Linked DNA regions of Homo sapiens: region 2 is linked to region 1. A link means that fine-mapping ties the variant in region 1 to the expression of a gene that starts in the linked region. Tissue or cell type: lung. Region 1 holds a variant in brackets; the other region holds the start of a gene. All regions are shown on one strand. Distances are between the middles of the regions.

What was found. PIP is the estimated chance that this variant, and not a neighbour inherited with it, causes the effect.
Region 2: it holds the start of FAXC, and the variant in region 1 is fine-mapped to the expression of FAXC in lung (TOPMed, PIP 0.95).

What each region holds. Positions count from the first base shown.
Region 1 is chr6:99,310,921-99,319,101 of GRCh38, forward strand. All of the region lies in intron 4 of FAXC (failed axon connections homolog, metaxin like GST domain containing), which reads right to left. Among named protein-coding and RNA genes, the nearest start is that of FAXC, 35 kb to the right of the region's middle. The variant CCTCTATATGACTGTAT/C (reference allele first, on the strand shown) is at 4,973.
Region 2 is chr6:99,345,683-99,353,863 of GRCh38, forward strand. It overlaps FAXC (failed axon connections homolog, metaxin like GST domain containing), which reads right to left and starts at 3,992. Exons shown (of 6, transcript NM_032511.4): 1 at 3,425-3,992. The coding sequence starts at 3,690. RefSeq lists enhancers at 374-874, 875-1,375, 2,266-2,830 and silencers at 4,022-4,081, 4,152-4,201, 4,262-4,341.

The DNA of each region.
Region 1 (8,181 bases):
GAGGTGCTGTTGCATGATCTAATTAAACAGAGTAGGAAGAGCAGGTATTAAAACAGCCTATCCCAAAGCTTTCTTAAAAACAAAAACAATTTTGCTACTGTCCAAGTAAAAAGAGAAAAAAATTTTAAAAGAAGTGGAAGATTCATTGTTCAAAGCATAGATTTAGTAACAATGGATGTAGAGTAGTGCTGTAAACACGAATGCTTTAAAGCACTGAGACTTCAGCAGGGGTGAGTAGCAGCCTAAACATAAATCACAACCCAACAGAGCAAACAGAATTCGAGACAACCAATCTCTACTTTGGCCTCTGCCTTGTTTCATGACTTATAAAATGACTCTACTCTTCTCCCCAGAGAGTGAACATAAAATCATGAAGTCAATCACGGTGGCTCACACCTTTAATCCCAACACTTTGGGAGGCCGAGGTGGGTGGATCACGAGGTCAGGAGTTCGAGACCAGCCTGGCCAAGATGGTAAAACCCCATCTCTACTAAAAATACAAAAATTAGCCAGGCACGGTGGTGGGCACCTGTAATCCCAGCTACTCGGGAGGCTGAGGCAGGAGAATTGCTTGAACTTGGGAGGTGGAGGTTGCAGTAAGCCAAGATTGTGCCACTGCACTCTAGCCTGGGCAATAGAGCAAGACTCCGTCTCAAAAATAAATAAATAAATACATACATACATACATAAATAAAATCATGAAACCATTAGAACTAGAAAGACCTCCCATTTCTAAACATCTCACCATCTGTAAAAAAGACCCCTCCTCAGCTATCATGACAGTGGTCATCCAACCTCATCTGGAGAATAGCAGCTCAGGCCACACCACAAGTCCTCCCAATTGTGGACAGCTCTGTCTTAAAATTCTGCCTTACCCTGAGTTGAAAGCTATTATTTCTCCAAATATACATCTCACCTTCCTCTCTGTCTCTTCTCCCCTCCCTCTTATGCCTGTCATCTACAGTGACAACTAAGTCATTAGCCACTTTTAAGTATTTGAAAAAAGTTAGTATATTACCTGATAGCTTTACTTCTCCATACTATCCATGCCCAGTATCCTCAAATTCCTCACATGAAATTTTTTCCCCACTAACTACTCCTGACCAGCCTCCTCTGGAAACACACTAGTTTGGCCATTTTTCTTTTAAAAGCACAATCCCAAAACTGCTCCTTACACTCTTGTTCAATAAATATCTGCTGGATGCCTCATGTGTTCCAGGCACTCAGTTGGGCTCTCAAGACAAAGGAGGAATCTGCCAGGCCTGGCACAGAGTCCAGCTGAGGAAACACTCAAACCAAACCATTAGAAGAGGGTGCAAGGTGAGCTCTGAAAAAGAAAGCACCAGCTGCCTGGGAGCACGGAACAGGTTTGCTGGGAACACTCTGGGAGACAGGTCCAGCCTCGGTCCACTGAACTCCAACCTGGTGACACCAATGCACACTGTTCAGCTCTTCAGAGCATTCTCTGCAGTAGTGATCATTTCTTTAGGTAGTCCTCATTAGAGGACTAATGAAAGGGTATCACTCATTCATAGAGAGACATGCAGATTATTCACAAATGATCTACAAGTGGGTGTCTGAAGATACACCAACTTATACATGTTGTGTACCCGTTAAACCCTCAGACTCCCAGCTGAAGAAAGGGAAAGTTGACAACATAAGGGAGAAGAGGGTAGGGAAAGTGAGAGCAAGCGCCTACAGCAGCTTAAGTTTCCAGCTACTATCTCAAACAAAAATCAGAGACTCCAGACCAAAAAGCCATACTATTAATAACTGTAAGGTTGCAATATTTTAGTATTGAATTCTCCTTCTAGTTAAATCTTTCTAATATTTTCCTAGGAAAAAAATCCTGAAGGTTGAATTACTTAATAAGTAAATGTTAGAAATATGATATTTTATCTTTTGAAACTACTAAAACTACATACTAATTTTTACTCCTACCACAAGAATATGTCAATGCCTCTCCCATACCTCTGCTGATACTCCTTCATATTATTTAAAAAACAAAACAAAAACAAAATATGCCAATTTGATTGACAGAGAAGTGCCTCATTTTTTAGCTTGCATTTCTCTGATATTAAAGAGGTTGAGGCCAGGTGCAGTGGCTTACGTCTACAATCCCAGCACGTTGTGGGGCCAAGGCAGGCGGACCACTTGAGCACAGGAATTCAAGACCAGCCTGGGCAACATGGCAAAACCTCATCGCTACAAAAAATACAAAAATTAGCTGGGTGTGGTGGCACACGCCTGTGGTCCCAGCTCCTCGGGACGATGAGGCAGAAGGATCGCTTGAGCCCAGGAGATCAAGGCTTCAGTGACCTATGATTGTGCCACTGCACTACAGCCTGGGCAACAGAGTGAGACCTTGTCTCAACAAAAATAAGTAAACAAATAAAGAGGTTGAACATTTTTAATATATTTATTCATCATTTGTATTGTTTTTGTAAATTACCTCTTTATATGTCTTCTGACCAATTTTCCCCCTTAAGTATTCACTTTTCTTATTTATTTATAAAAGCTCTTCAAATGTTAATATTCTTTTGTCACATGTTGCAAACATTTTTCCAGCTTACCCTTTCAACTTTAAATATGGCAATTTTTTTATATACAGGAGGTTGGTTTTCTTTTTTCTCATGTCATCAAGCAATTCAACTTTTCTTTTATAGTTTCACCCTATGGCACCATGTTTAGAAAAACTTTCCTAAGCTCAACATTCTATAAGTTTCCCATATTTTATTCTGGCACCTTTATGGTTTTATGTTTATGGTTTTATGTTTCACATTTAAATGCTTGATTCATTTGGAATTTATTCTGACATGAAGTCAGAATTGAACTTATGTTGTTCCAAATGGTTAGCCACCTGTCCTGGCACCATTTATTGAATGAATTTGTCTTTCCTCCACTGATCACGGCTGCCTTTATCATATACTGCATCTCTACTCATGTGTCTGTCTCATAGGGACCTCAAACTCAGCATACCCACACCTGAAATTCATGATCTTCCCCTCTTCTCCAGTGTCCTCCAACTCTGTGAATGGCTACCTCATCAATAATGTTTATTTGTCCTTTGTTTTTTGGTTCTTTTCAGAAATGAGGTTTTGCTATGTTGCTCAGGCTGGGGTGCAGTGGCTATTCACAGTTGTAATCACAGTTCTCTGCAGCCTTCAACTCCTGGCCTCAAGCGATTCCCATTGCCTCAGCCTCCTGAGTACCCAGAACTATAGACACGTGCCCCCACACCCAGCCATCCACTAAGTTTTAATGTCCAGAACCTGATTATGCCTGACCCCGCCCCTCTCCATCACCACAACCCTCCCCCTCTACACATACACATCAAATCACTAAACTTTCTCAGTTCTGTCTCTAAAACATAGTTCTCATTCATAACTTTCTGCCCAACTCTATCACCATGCCTATAATCCAAGCACCATCTTATCTTTCCTGGACCCTGTCTCTACAAAAAATACAAAATACAAAACCCCGTCTCTACAAAAAATACAAAAATTAGCTGGGCGTGGTAGCACACGCCTGTGGTCCCAGCTACTCAGGACAATGAGGCAGAAGGATCACTTGAGCCCAGGAGATCAAGGCTTCAGTGAGCTATGATTGTGTCACTGCACTACAGCCTGGGCAACAGCTTCTTCCCTGGGCCACCAAACCTACTCTTGGCCCCTCCAGCACATGAAACGGATATAGGATCACACCATGTCCCAACTTTCAACCTCTGCTGGTTTCCACTGCTCTTGGGAAAAAGTCCAGATTTATTTATGTTACACATAAGACTGTGAGCTCAGCCCCTGCCACCACTGCCTCATGCCACTCCTGCTCTCACACAATTTCCAGACACACTAGCCACCTTTTCATTCCTTGAAAGCACCCAGCTGCTGTTCATCTCAGGCCGTTTACATATGATGTTCCTTCTCTAGTCCACGCTATTCTACTCACTGTCCCACCCTTGTTGCCCACACCTACATACATGCCTGCCTTACTTGGGCTTATCTTTCAGAATGCTGCTTAAATATGACCTCCTTGGCCAGGCGCAGTGCCTCACACCTGTAATCCCGGCACCCTGGGAAGCCGAGGCAGGTGGATCACCTGAGGTCAGGAGTTCAAGACCAGCCTGGCCAACATGGTGAAAGACCATCTCTAATAAAAATACAAAAATTAGCCAGGTGTGGTGCCGCACACCTGTAATTTCAGCTACTTGAGGGCTGAGGTAAGAGAATCACTTGAACTTGGGAGGCGGAGACTACAGTGAGCTGAGAGCACACTACTGCACTCCAGCCTGGGCAACTGAGCAACACTCCATCTTAAAAAAAAAAAAAAAAAAAAAAAAAAAAAACCAGTAAATGTCACCTCCTTGAAGAAGGCTTCCAGAACCACCTCTTCATCACTACCACCACCATGTTCATTTCCCCTGCAAAAAAATTCCTCACTGCACTTTGCACTTTACAGTGGCACCCCTCACAAGTGCTGAGATTTTATAAATGTTTACCTGCAATATCTCCCTCAGGTGGCAGCTCTGGTAGCTCAGGGCTGTGCCCAATGTGTTCACCACCAACCCTTAAGCCCCTCACAAAAAGCCTGGCACACTGTTCAAGGCATATGTGTTTAACCACACAGTCCTAAGTCAATGGAATTACCCTTCTGCCTGAATTCTAATTATTACAAGTATACTCTCCTCCTAAGGTGTCTAACAACAGAAAAGTGGCTGAAAATAACATCGCAGTTTCCACTTGCACAGCCCATTACTATTTCTGATCCTACTTACTCTTAAATACATTTACAAATTTAAATTTTTTGCTCAGAAAGCACTCCTAAGATCCACAGATCCTGGAGTCCATGCTTGGCTATCTGCTAACAGCATTCTGACATTCATTCATTCTTTTATTCACTCATCCAGCAGATATTTATTGACCACCACTGGTCCACAGCTGAGCCTCACAACTGAAACTGTATTTTTCTTCTTCTC[CCTCTATATGACTGTAT/C]CTCCCAAACCAACTCTATTTACCAATTATTCATCTACTTTTCCCATGAGATAGCTGCTGTATCACCACCCAGGATCTATACAAATCCAATTAAAAGCAAACAAACATTAGGTTTTAGTAATCTGTGCTGCCTCATCATGATCAGTATCATCAAATCCAGCCACCTAGCACCCTGTACCCCACCCTGAGCTTTAAGGGGTCAGTAGAGAGATCAAGAGAAGAAACTCAGGCCCAGCTTTAACCCACTCGCCCCCCCCCACCCACAAGGGGTTGCCCCCTTAACATTCCTGAATAGCTCTGAGCTCTGGGAAGAAAGCTGCTTTCCAGAAGCATCAAAATGCAATCTTGTGTTGGTGCTCGGAGAAGCTTGAGAGCCACAGGATAAGGTGTATAAAACCACAGAAAGGGTTTGACAACAACCCAAGGCACACTCCCCAGAGGGTAGCTCTTCTACATGTGTTAACCTACTCATCCCCCTCCCCCTGCCTATTTCCTACAAGAGTCCAGCCTTGTCTTTGGATTCTGAGCTCACTGAAGCCAGTTCTCTCTTTCTCAGCATGCCAGAGCTATAAGAGGGCCGCAATGTGGCACCTGCCTTTCCAAGGTTTTTGACCTACACTGCAAGGCATAATTGCACCCATATTTTCTTTACCTTTCCCTCAACACATGCCTGTCTCTGAGTTTCCCTGACTCTGCTATAGTCATCTGCTCCCTGAAGAGCATCAACACTGCTTCATGGTATAGGCTTCCCAATCTGGAGGGATGGAACCCCAAAGGCATTTCTGGGTAAGAGCAACCTACAGATTTTCTATGACTAATCACAAAAGCTTAACCCTGCTGTTCTCTGAGAATATTTTCACCTTCCATGAACTAAGTGATCACCCAAATAGCTATATACTTGGAAAACAAAGTTGCTTGATTGTTTTATTCTACAGCAAAATTCAATCATTCTGAAAAGCAAAACCACACTGTCATTATACATGCTTAGGAAGGTGACATGAAGCAGCAAATGATTCATTTTTACTGCCTTTGAAGGGACGCACTACTTTGCAACTCCCTACTCTTTATTACATAGTCAAGGTCACACTGATGTTTACTAAAATAACTAAAAAGTCTGGTTCTTAAAAATGTGTTGATCCAATGTCAACAAAGACTGAAAAATAATGACTCCGCAAGCCATTTTCTGACTCAATAAAATGCTGTAGCCTGGAAAAAAAGAAAAGTATATTACATTTTTTATTAATCAAGTGAAGTTTGCTGGAAATCAGATTTTTTTTTTCACTTCCACTTACAAATTCCATTTACCACTTCGCTCTTTCAGAAGCAGCCCCCAAAAAGAGATCATTTCTCCTTAAGCATTTCATCCTAGAGGCTGGGCAGCAAGCCTCCCGATGAAGGGCACAGCTTCAACTCACAAGGCTCAGGATCTCTAAATCAGTGATAATGCTCCACATTTAAATCTGTACTCTGCTTCCAGGGGCAACCTAATCAAACGTACTTAAAAATTACTTTGAAGACCACATTTTAACTTGCCAGTGGAAGTCGTGGCAATTTTAGAAAATGTTCTAAAGAAATCATCCTGACATAACTTAACTTCTGTATTTAAAGCACAATTCTTAAGAAACCAAGGTAGTAGTCAGGTCAGAAAACAGCAGGGGCCTTAGGTCTGACAGCCTGGATTTGAGTCTGGGCTTCACTTGTTAGTGGTTGTGTGATTGTTGGCAAGTCATTCAACCTTTCTGTGCCTCGTTTTTCTTATCTGTCAAATGGGTGGTGTTCCTTTCACTTTGTACTAGAGTCTATCTTCCATTCATATTTTGTATCTCATGGCCACAGCTGGGGATCTCTGTGTTAACATGGGACACAACTATACAATTCTTATTTTCATTGTCTTATTTTGCATCCACTTCAAGGTCATACCTGTAATCTATGTAGGCCTGATAACAGAAATACTAAAAAGGCAAAAGACAAAGCAGGGTTTTGTCTGATAAATCTTCTATCAGTTTTCCTGGCACCAAGGGTGATACACAGCACACAGAATCACATGGTATAGAATATTTAAAAATAGGGCTGGGCGCGGTGGCTCACGCCTGTAATCCCAGCACTTTGGGAGGCCGAGGCGGGTGGATCACGAGGTCAGGAAATCGAGACCATCCTGGCTAACACGGTGAAAGCCCGTCTCTACTAAAAATACAAAAAAATTAGCTGGGCATGGTGGTGGGCGCCTTTAGTCCCAGCTACTCGGGAGGCTGAGGCAGGAGAATGGCGTGAACCCGGGAGGCGGAGCTTGCAGTGAGCCAAGACGGCGCCACTGCACTCCAGCCTGGGCGACAGAGCAAGACTCCGTCTCAAACACACACACACACACACACACACACACACACACACACACACACACAAAATAGAAGAAATGGAAAATATATATGTACAAATATGTATATATAGATGATTCAAAATTATGCATAAAAATATTGGAAACATATGCACCAAAATGGTAACAGTTGTTAGCAATGGGTTAGAAGATTACAGCAACAAGAAGTGAGAGAGGGATGGGAAAATATATTTTTTAAAAATTGCAGTGACTTATTTTCCTTCCTTATGCTTTTCTGAGCCTTCCCAAATTTCTACAATAAATTCTAAAATCAGAAAAATGATTTTTGTTATAAAGACATTTTTCCCAGAAAACAATGTTTCCAATGAAGTTGTGTTACATACAAAATCAGTGACAGTGATTATGAGAATAACTATTTATTTAGCACTTCCTATGGGTCAGGCCCTGCAGTAAGTACTTTACAGAAAGCATTTCATTTAGTCCCCACCCACTGTGATGTAGGTATTGTTCTGAACCTCATTTTGCAAATGAACAACTCAAGTTATTTGTGTGAAATCAAAGAGCTGGTAAGCGGTGATGCCCCAGATGTGAACCCGGGATCTGACTCCAGGATTCCCACACCCATATGCCAGCCACTAGGCTTCCTGCCTCTAGCCACGCTGGTTCCCAAAAACCTCACCTCTCTGTTTTTGATTTTCATGTCTTCTTTGCTCTTTATTGACTCTCATTCTTTTTTGGGAGTGTTCAGAAATAAACAGTGTATGTATTTCTGGCATGTGGAGGCATCAGGCAACCATTACACATAGTTATCTGCTATGAACACACACACCTTCCCCAAGGGGGACATAAGAACATGAGGAT
Region 2 (8,181 bases), 35 kb after region 1:
TTTGCAGAGATCAGATGTTGATTCGCCAACTAAATGCTCTAGAAGAGGCTGAGCCCGTGTGTCAAAAGTGCAAATAAGCACTGGTAATGAAGTTAGTACTTAGTCATTCAATTTACAAACAAAAATTTCCAAAGCCTGATTGAATTTAAGATAGCTGCCAAGCTATCTCCACTCAGGGAAAACAAAGTAGTGTGTTGGAACAATATTTATTTTAAAATATGGTGCTAAAAAACATGGATAAAACCCCAAAAACCTACTTCAGTTATATTCATTAATTAAACTTCCTAAGTAATTCTCACCTGTCAACTTTACTCTTCCACTCTAGAGACACAGTCATAGATTAAGGTTATGTCTATGCAGCAGAAAATCCAAGTAGGCTGGGGAAGAGTTTGCAATAGCCAGAAACTCAGGGTAGTCATTTTAAGGTGTATTTTCTATCTTACATATTTCAGATTTTGTTTTGTTTTCTGCCTAAATTATAAAGACTATTGAAACCTAGATTTCACCTTAAGTGGAGGTAGTTATCATGTAACCTCTAAAGCCTTGGTCTTTGACCTTCCTGCCTGGTTTTTTTCCCTTTGCCCCTCCACTCCTCTTCCCCTAGACGCTGCAAGAAAGGCACCTGATACAGGTCTGTCTTCCCTGAGCAATGCTTCAGTTCTCCACATTTCTCTTCCTTCCTCTTCCTCCAACAAAACGGATTTCAAAGTAGGTACTTTTTTTGAGACGGAGTCTCGCTCTGTCGCCAGGCTGGAGTGCAGTGGCACCATCTCGGCTCACTGCAACCTCCGCCTCCTGGGTTCAAGCGATTCTCCTGCCTCAGCTCCCCGAGTAGCTATAGGACTACAGGCGCGTGCCACCACGCCAGGCTAATTTTTGTGGGGTTTTTTTGTTTGTTTTTTAGTAGACGGGGTTTCACAATGTTGGCCAGATGGTCTCGATCTCTTGACCTCGTGATCCGCCCGCGTCAGCCTCCCAAAGTGCTGGGATTACAGGCGTAAGCTGCCGCGCGCCGGGCCAAAGTAGGTACTTTCTAAGAGGCAGTGGTTAAAAACTGCAGGCTCTGATTTGAATCTAGATCCTACTACTCTTACTGTGTGATCTTGGGCAAGCTGCTTAACCTCCCTGAGCTGCAATTTCCTTATCTATGAAATGAACAAACAACAGTTGTGAGGAATAAATGCAGTCACACATGCAAAGCCCATCCTACTAAGTATTCAGAAATAGCCCTTTTTTATTGTTTGCATTACTTCAGAGCTTTCTAATTCAACTCAAACATTTGTCCAGAAACAAAACTGGCCAAGTATGGTGGCTCACACCTATAAACCCAACACTTTGGGAGGCCAAGGAGGGAGGATTTCTTGAGGCCAGGAGTTTGAGACAAGCCTGGGCAACATAGTGAGACCCCATCTCCACAAAAAAGTTAAAAAAAAAATTAGCCAAGTGCAATGGTTCATGCCTGTAATCCCAGCAACTCAGCAGACTGAGGCCAGAGGATCGCTTGATCCCAGGAGTTCAAGAGCAGCCTGGCCAACACGGTGAAACCCTATCTCTACTAAAAATACAAAAATTATCCAGACGCGGTGGTGCACGCCTGTAATCCCAGCTACTCAGGAGGCTGAGCCAGGAGAATCATTTGAACCAGGGAGGTGGAGGTTGCAATGAGCTGAGATCGAGCCACTGCACTCCAACATGGGCGACAAAGCGAGACTCAGTCTCAAAAGAAAAAAAAAAAAAAAGGAAGAAAAAGTGTGAATCAACCTAGGATTAAACTCCTTAGTCCAAATAAGCATCCAGTGCTGAGGTATATAGTCCCCTAAATGAGTTAGTAGCTATCTGTGGGCAGAGAGCTCTCCAGTCTCCAGTGACAACACCTGCCAGGGCAGGGCCTACTCCGGAGTGGCAGCTGAGCTCCACACTGTTTCTGCAAGGTCATTTAAGCTTTGTTTTAAACTTGGTCCTGTGAAGCCTTCACTCCCTCCACTGCTGAGAAGCCTCATGGTTTGGGATCTCCTCAAAGGCTTTAGACTAGAATACAACTGAGAAACAACTGGGTTACCATTTAAATTACTGCCCAAATGTTTTAGTTCTTTAGGTAGCTTGAAATCTAACTTGAAATACAGTTCTAAAACTAGCACAATTAACAAATAATCTAGAGAGATAATTCTCTTTAAATTTTTTTGTTTGGTTCAGCTAGATTCAAGGCAATGTGTTGAGAGAATTAAATGTGCAACAAGCTTAAAATAAACTTCCTCAAATATGGCTAAATAATATGAAAACCAATACATTTCTCCAAACCTAAATGATTTCCCACCCTTTCAGAGATGGGAACTATTCAAAATATGTACGTTAGGCCAAATGCCTACATTAGGCCATCACAATAATCTCCTGGGATCCCTGCAGGCTAGTACAGGTCACCTATCACTGTCTTTGTTTATAACCTATTGTGTAGGATTCCTCCACTGGAATAAGGCAGTGTGGACACATTTCTCTCACTTTAGAAAATACTGGCAAAGAGACATTCTGAGCTATTGAAAACTGGGCTTCTGGTAATCTTCCAGTGACGGAAGGCTCAAATGCATGGAAATTTTAACCATTAATTGATGTATCAATTAGCCAAACGACTGTCTCAGTGCCCTGTGGTATTACTCTACCCAAACAAAAATCTCGTCCCGGCTGGATGTACCAACAGCAGGGGCCTCCATTTTCTGGTATTTCCAACTCAATCTTGTAAACATTCTGCGGCAGCGGATGCAACTGTTTACGGCACTGGGCGACTCCGTGTTGTGCCCAACACACCCATGTGCTAGCCTGTCCTACTGCTCACACAACAATGACATCTAAGCCTGAAGATGGTGCTTGGCGTTCAATACCAGATAAGCAGAGAACCAGGTTAAGGCTGCATCAAAGCTGCCCACCACTACACTTGGTCATGCATCTTTAACAGGGACCCGCAGGTTTCTGGAGCTTTTGCAATTTTTCAGTCTTTTGATGTTGACATTTAGGGAAGAACTAACCTTTAGGTAAAAGATAAGGTTAGCAGTTAATATTCCAGCATTATTACTTATAAACAAGGCATTTCATAAAAGTGTAACCTATTTCTGCAGGGCCCAATTCTATTGTTGCAAACACACTGCACTTAGATCCTCCTAAGGCCATTTCTTAATAGATAACGACAAGTGACCCAGAGCATTTTGGGAGACAAATGTTTTTCCCTCCCAGCACCGGTTTAATTCTCCTTTCAACTCTAAACTGCCCCTCACGGCCAGGTGACCACAAATGCCTTTAGGGAAAGGTAATTGCAGGGCGCTTGGGCATCTGGGCAGCTTGACCGAGGGGCTGGCACGGGCCCCTCTCGCGCCAGCCCTGCCCTAGCCAGGTGCCCCTCTCTGCGCCCCTGTGCGGGGCCCTCTCTCCGGCTCACCTAATGACCAGGAGTTCGTGGAGCAGATACGCAGCTGCGGCCAGCAAAGCTCCCCCGGTCAAGTAAAGGGTTTTCTTCCACCAGGGATCGGAGCCCAGCCCTGCCATGATCCCACCGTAATCCTGCAAAGGGAAAGCGATGATGTCCCCATAAAAGGAGAAGGGCTCCTCGGACCCGGCCCACCAGCCGAAGAAGGAGATGCTCTGGTTCCAGCTCAGATCCACCACGCACGGCCTGGACGAAGCAAAGCCAACCCCCCAGTGCATGCTGCGCGGCTGGCTCCGGGCGCCCCTCCCAGGGCCCGCGCCGCCCGCATGGGAAGGGGCCGGCGCGGCCCGGCGCGGGCTCAGAGGCGCGCGGAGGGCGCGGGCGGCGCGGGCGGCGGCGACTGAGGAGGCGGCGGCGACTGAGGAGGCGGCGGCAGAGGAGGAGGAGGAGGAAGGGCACTGGCCGCGGACGGCGGGCCTGGCCGGCGGGGCCCCAGAGCCCTGGGCGGCAGCAGCGGCCGCCGGCTCCCCCCGCAGCTGCCTCTCCGCCCCGCTCTTTGTGTCGGCGCCTGGAGAAGGCCGCGTGATGTCATTGCTCCCCGGGGCAGGGAAACAGAGGCGGGATAAAGTCACCTACCCCGCGCCCTGCCCCCTCCCCGCATCTCCGCGGTCCGGCCGCCTCCGCCGGGGCCGGATCTGCAGGGCTGAGGCGCGCCGGGCAGGCTCCGCGCCTCCGGGCGGCACGCCCAAAAACCGCTCGCCGCGCGCGGGCAAGGGCGGCGGAGGTGCCTGGAAATGCGGCCCCACCGCGAGGAAGCTGCAGTCGGGGCCCGGATCCCGGTCCTCCCCTACCCCGGCCGGCCCTCCGCCTGCGCTCCAGCCCCTCCCGCGGGCCCCAGAGTAGGGAACGCGCAGGACTCACCTGGGGCGGCGCGGAGCTGCGGGCAGGAGACGCCACCAGGCGGGGGCTGGGAGCGTGGGCCAGGATTAAAGTCGGGAATCAGATTGTTCTGGCCATCAGGAAAGCGCTGCGTATTTGCATAATGTATAAAAACACTCTTATTACATTACACAATTACCTCGGGCTTGACCAGGTGTTCGCAGAGACGAGATGTCTGGTTTGGCAAATAACAAAATACTCTACCTAGAGAGATTTCTCTGACAAACCCAGTTCAAGTCTTTCCTCTTTGAAGTCACTATCAGGGAACTCGCTGATACAGGGTTTCGGTTGGGGGACGGGGGTCCCTCTTTTGTTTTAGAAAATCTGTCTAACAACTGTGTGTGTGTTCAGTGTATTTTTTTCCTTTAACTTCATTTATTAAAGTTCATAAGTACAAAGAATAGAAGCTTGTAATATATGCACAGATTTTAACAAGAGCATGGATAGTTTTAAATTGTTTGGAAGAACTGAAAAAGGATTCGGGCCGTGGAGGTTCATCACTCTCAAGGTGGAAGGATGGGTAAAAGAAACCTCCAGGCTCTTGCCTATGGAGCAGAGATTGAGGCGCAAAAGGACTCCCCCTTTTTTTCCTCTCCTGACACACCCGCCCCTTAGAACAGGCAAGGAGTGTGGTCGTCTTGTTAATAAATAATAAATATGGACGTGTCGCCTCAACGAGACGGGGGGAGGGGCTAGTCAGCTGATGCCTAGGCACCAGCATGTGAGACTCCCCAAACACTCCTGGGAAAATGTGACCTCCCAGGAAGAAGTAATGTGTGTGGTTCTAAGTGAGGCTCCCATAAGTAGGTTGCAAGGAGTGAAACCCAACGGCCTCCTGGGGTGACTGAGGTGGTCACCAGCCGGTCTTTCAAGGAGAGAGGCCAGAAGGCTGCCTGGCCTTGTCGGCAAGAAGCAGAGTAGTTAAGTCTGGGACCAAAGCTGCAGTGCTCTGGAAGAGGGAACAAGGAGGGCTGGCACCAGGGATTCTCCATGCTCCTTCTGTGCCCTTCCCACAGAGCACTCAGTCTTTGCTCTCAGTGAACACTGAGCCAATATTTAAAGAATATAAGTTTGATATTTGGGATCACATTATTTGCATATCTAGGTCTAGACATGGGGATGGGCATAAATTACCTTAAGTGGAAGAATATGGAAGGCAAAAGGGAGAGTCAATCCTGACAAACCTTATGCCCAAAACAAGTTAGAACCCAGAGGAAGTGTAGTATTTTTATCCCAGAAAGCCACTGACTACAATTCACTCTCACTCATAGTGACCTGCCCCACCCACTCATGCAGGCCAGGGGCCCACTGCTGCTTCCTGGTAGTGTCAGACAACTGTTGAGCATCATCTGGTCTCTGGTTCAAATATGGTTTACATTTTTAGAGACACTGCAGTGAACATCTTTAAGAAGCAGATGTGGGCTGGGCACAGGTGGCTCACACATGTAATCCCAACACTTTGGGAGGCCAAGGTGGGTGGATCACCTAAGGTCACGAGTTCGAGATCAGCCTGGCCAACATGGCGAAACCCCGTCTCTACTGAAAATACAAAAAATTAGCCGGGAGTGGTGACGAGCACCTGTAATTCCAGCTACTCGGAAGGCTAAGGCAGGAGAATTGCTTGAACCCAGGAGGCGGAGGTCTCAGTGAGGAGAGATTGTGCCATTGCACCCCAGCCTGGGTAACAAGAGCGAGACACCGTCTCAATAAAAATAAAAATAAAAATAAAATAAAATTCCACAAGAGAAACTAAAATGTCATCTTAATCTGATGCATCTTAAATTTTAACTTTTAGATCCATGGCATAGAAGAGAAAAGATGATTATTGTTAGGGCTGTATAAGATGAAAAGAGGAAGAGTAGACTGAGGAGACAACAAATCTGAGTTGGACAAATATTTGGTATCAGAATGTCAGAACAGGCCGGGCATGGTGGGGTGGCTCATGCCTGTAATCCCAGCACTTTGGGAGGTGGGCAGATCACTTGAGGTCAAGAGTTTGAGACCAGCCTGGCCAACATGGTGAAACTGTGTCTCTACTAAAAAAAAAATACAAAAATTAGCTAGGCATGGTGTCGAGCACCTGTAACCCCAGCTACCTGGGAGTCTGAGGCAGGAGAATCACTTGAACCTGGGAAGCAGAGGTCGCAGTGAGCTGAGATCGCGCCACTGCACTCTAGCCTGGGTGACAGAGTGAGACTCCATCTGAAATAAAAAAGAAGAACCTCAGAACAAACCTTTGGGGAGCAAGGAAAGCAGCTCTAGCTGTAAAGGCACCGACTGATGCAATCCTCAGCCAAATCTTCATCCAAAGACAGACTGAGTTTCAGAGGGAAAAGCTGCTCCACAAAGGGGTGCAAGCCAGCTGTAGAAAGATGGGAGACTCAGGCTCAGGGGCAAGGGACTCAGCCCCAGAGGAGTGGTGGTGGTGGGATAAACTCAGTAGAAAGGAACCAAACACAGCTTGGTTAACAAGAGTTGCTAAGGAGGCTGATTCTGCAAAGAATGGCTCCTCAGAATCCCTAGTGTAGAGCCAAGTCACAGGCTGAAGCCACAGCAGCTATGCAGGGCCTCCCTACTGAGGCTGAAGGTGCAGGAGCTGAGCATGTCTGCACCCCAGCTCTCCTCCTGAGGCTCCTATAGTTAGTGAGAAAATTTGAAGACTCTGGGCACTAGGCTAGGCATCTCTACTTCACCCCTTCTACCACCACCACCACTAATTTTGACAGCTTTGGTGCCGTACGCATGGACATTAGCTCCAAACTAGAGGCAATTTCTTTTTCTTTTTCAAGGACTTTTTGTTAACTAACTTTAATTGAGTTGTTATAAGACAAGAAAAAAGAAGGAACTAATATTGATTGAACACCTGTTTGTGTTGTATAGTGATTTTTTTTCCAGTAACAAGCTATGTTAGATAAGTATTGTCATTTCAATTTTACAACTGAAAGAAACTAAGGCCCAGAGGGGACAATTAACAAGTTCAATTCCCAGAGTGAGGTGATGATGGATCCAAGCATGTCTTACACCAGTGGCCCTGTGGGCGCTCCACCACCTCCATCAGCGGTGTCCAATCTTTTGGCTTCCCTGGGCCACATTAGAAGAACTGTCTTGGGCCACACCTAAACTACGCTAAGGACGGCTGATGAGCTTTAAAAAAAATCGCAAAAAATTCATAATGTTTTAAGAAGGTTTACAAATTTGTGTTGGGCCACATTCAAAGTCGTCCTGGGCCGCCAGGTTGGACAAGGTTTTGACCTACAAGGGTCTCACACCAAGAACAGTGAGTGCTGGAGCGCTGTCCATGGTATTCTTGCTTTACACTATTAGTCTGGGGCTCAGTTTTCAACTGTCTCAACTGAATGACTACAAAGCATCCAATGCCTGCAGGTTATACTGTCACCTGAAAAAGGTAGCTTCAGATAATTTATTATGCAGATATCGGCGTGCCCTGTGTCATGTGGGTCTACAGCCTCGCCAAGACAATTGGGTAAGGACAACTAAATCAGTGTTTCCCAAACCTTAAAGTACATATGTGTCACCTGGGGCTCTGTCATGACGATCAAACAAGAGACAATTAGATCAGAGGTAATTGAGAAGGTGGGTGGTGAGAAAAGTTTAGGATGTTTTGAGTGTGGGCCTCTCAAACATTACCGTGTATATGAGGATATTGTTAAAATGCAAAATTTGACTCAGTAGTTCTGGGGTGGGGCCTGAGAGTCTGCATTTCTAACAAGCTTCCAGGTGATACCAGACCACAGTTTGTGTAACAATTGTTTATACCACTGGCTTATGAGGAAGATCAAGAACTCTGCCCACCAGGTGTACCCCATGTT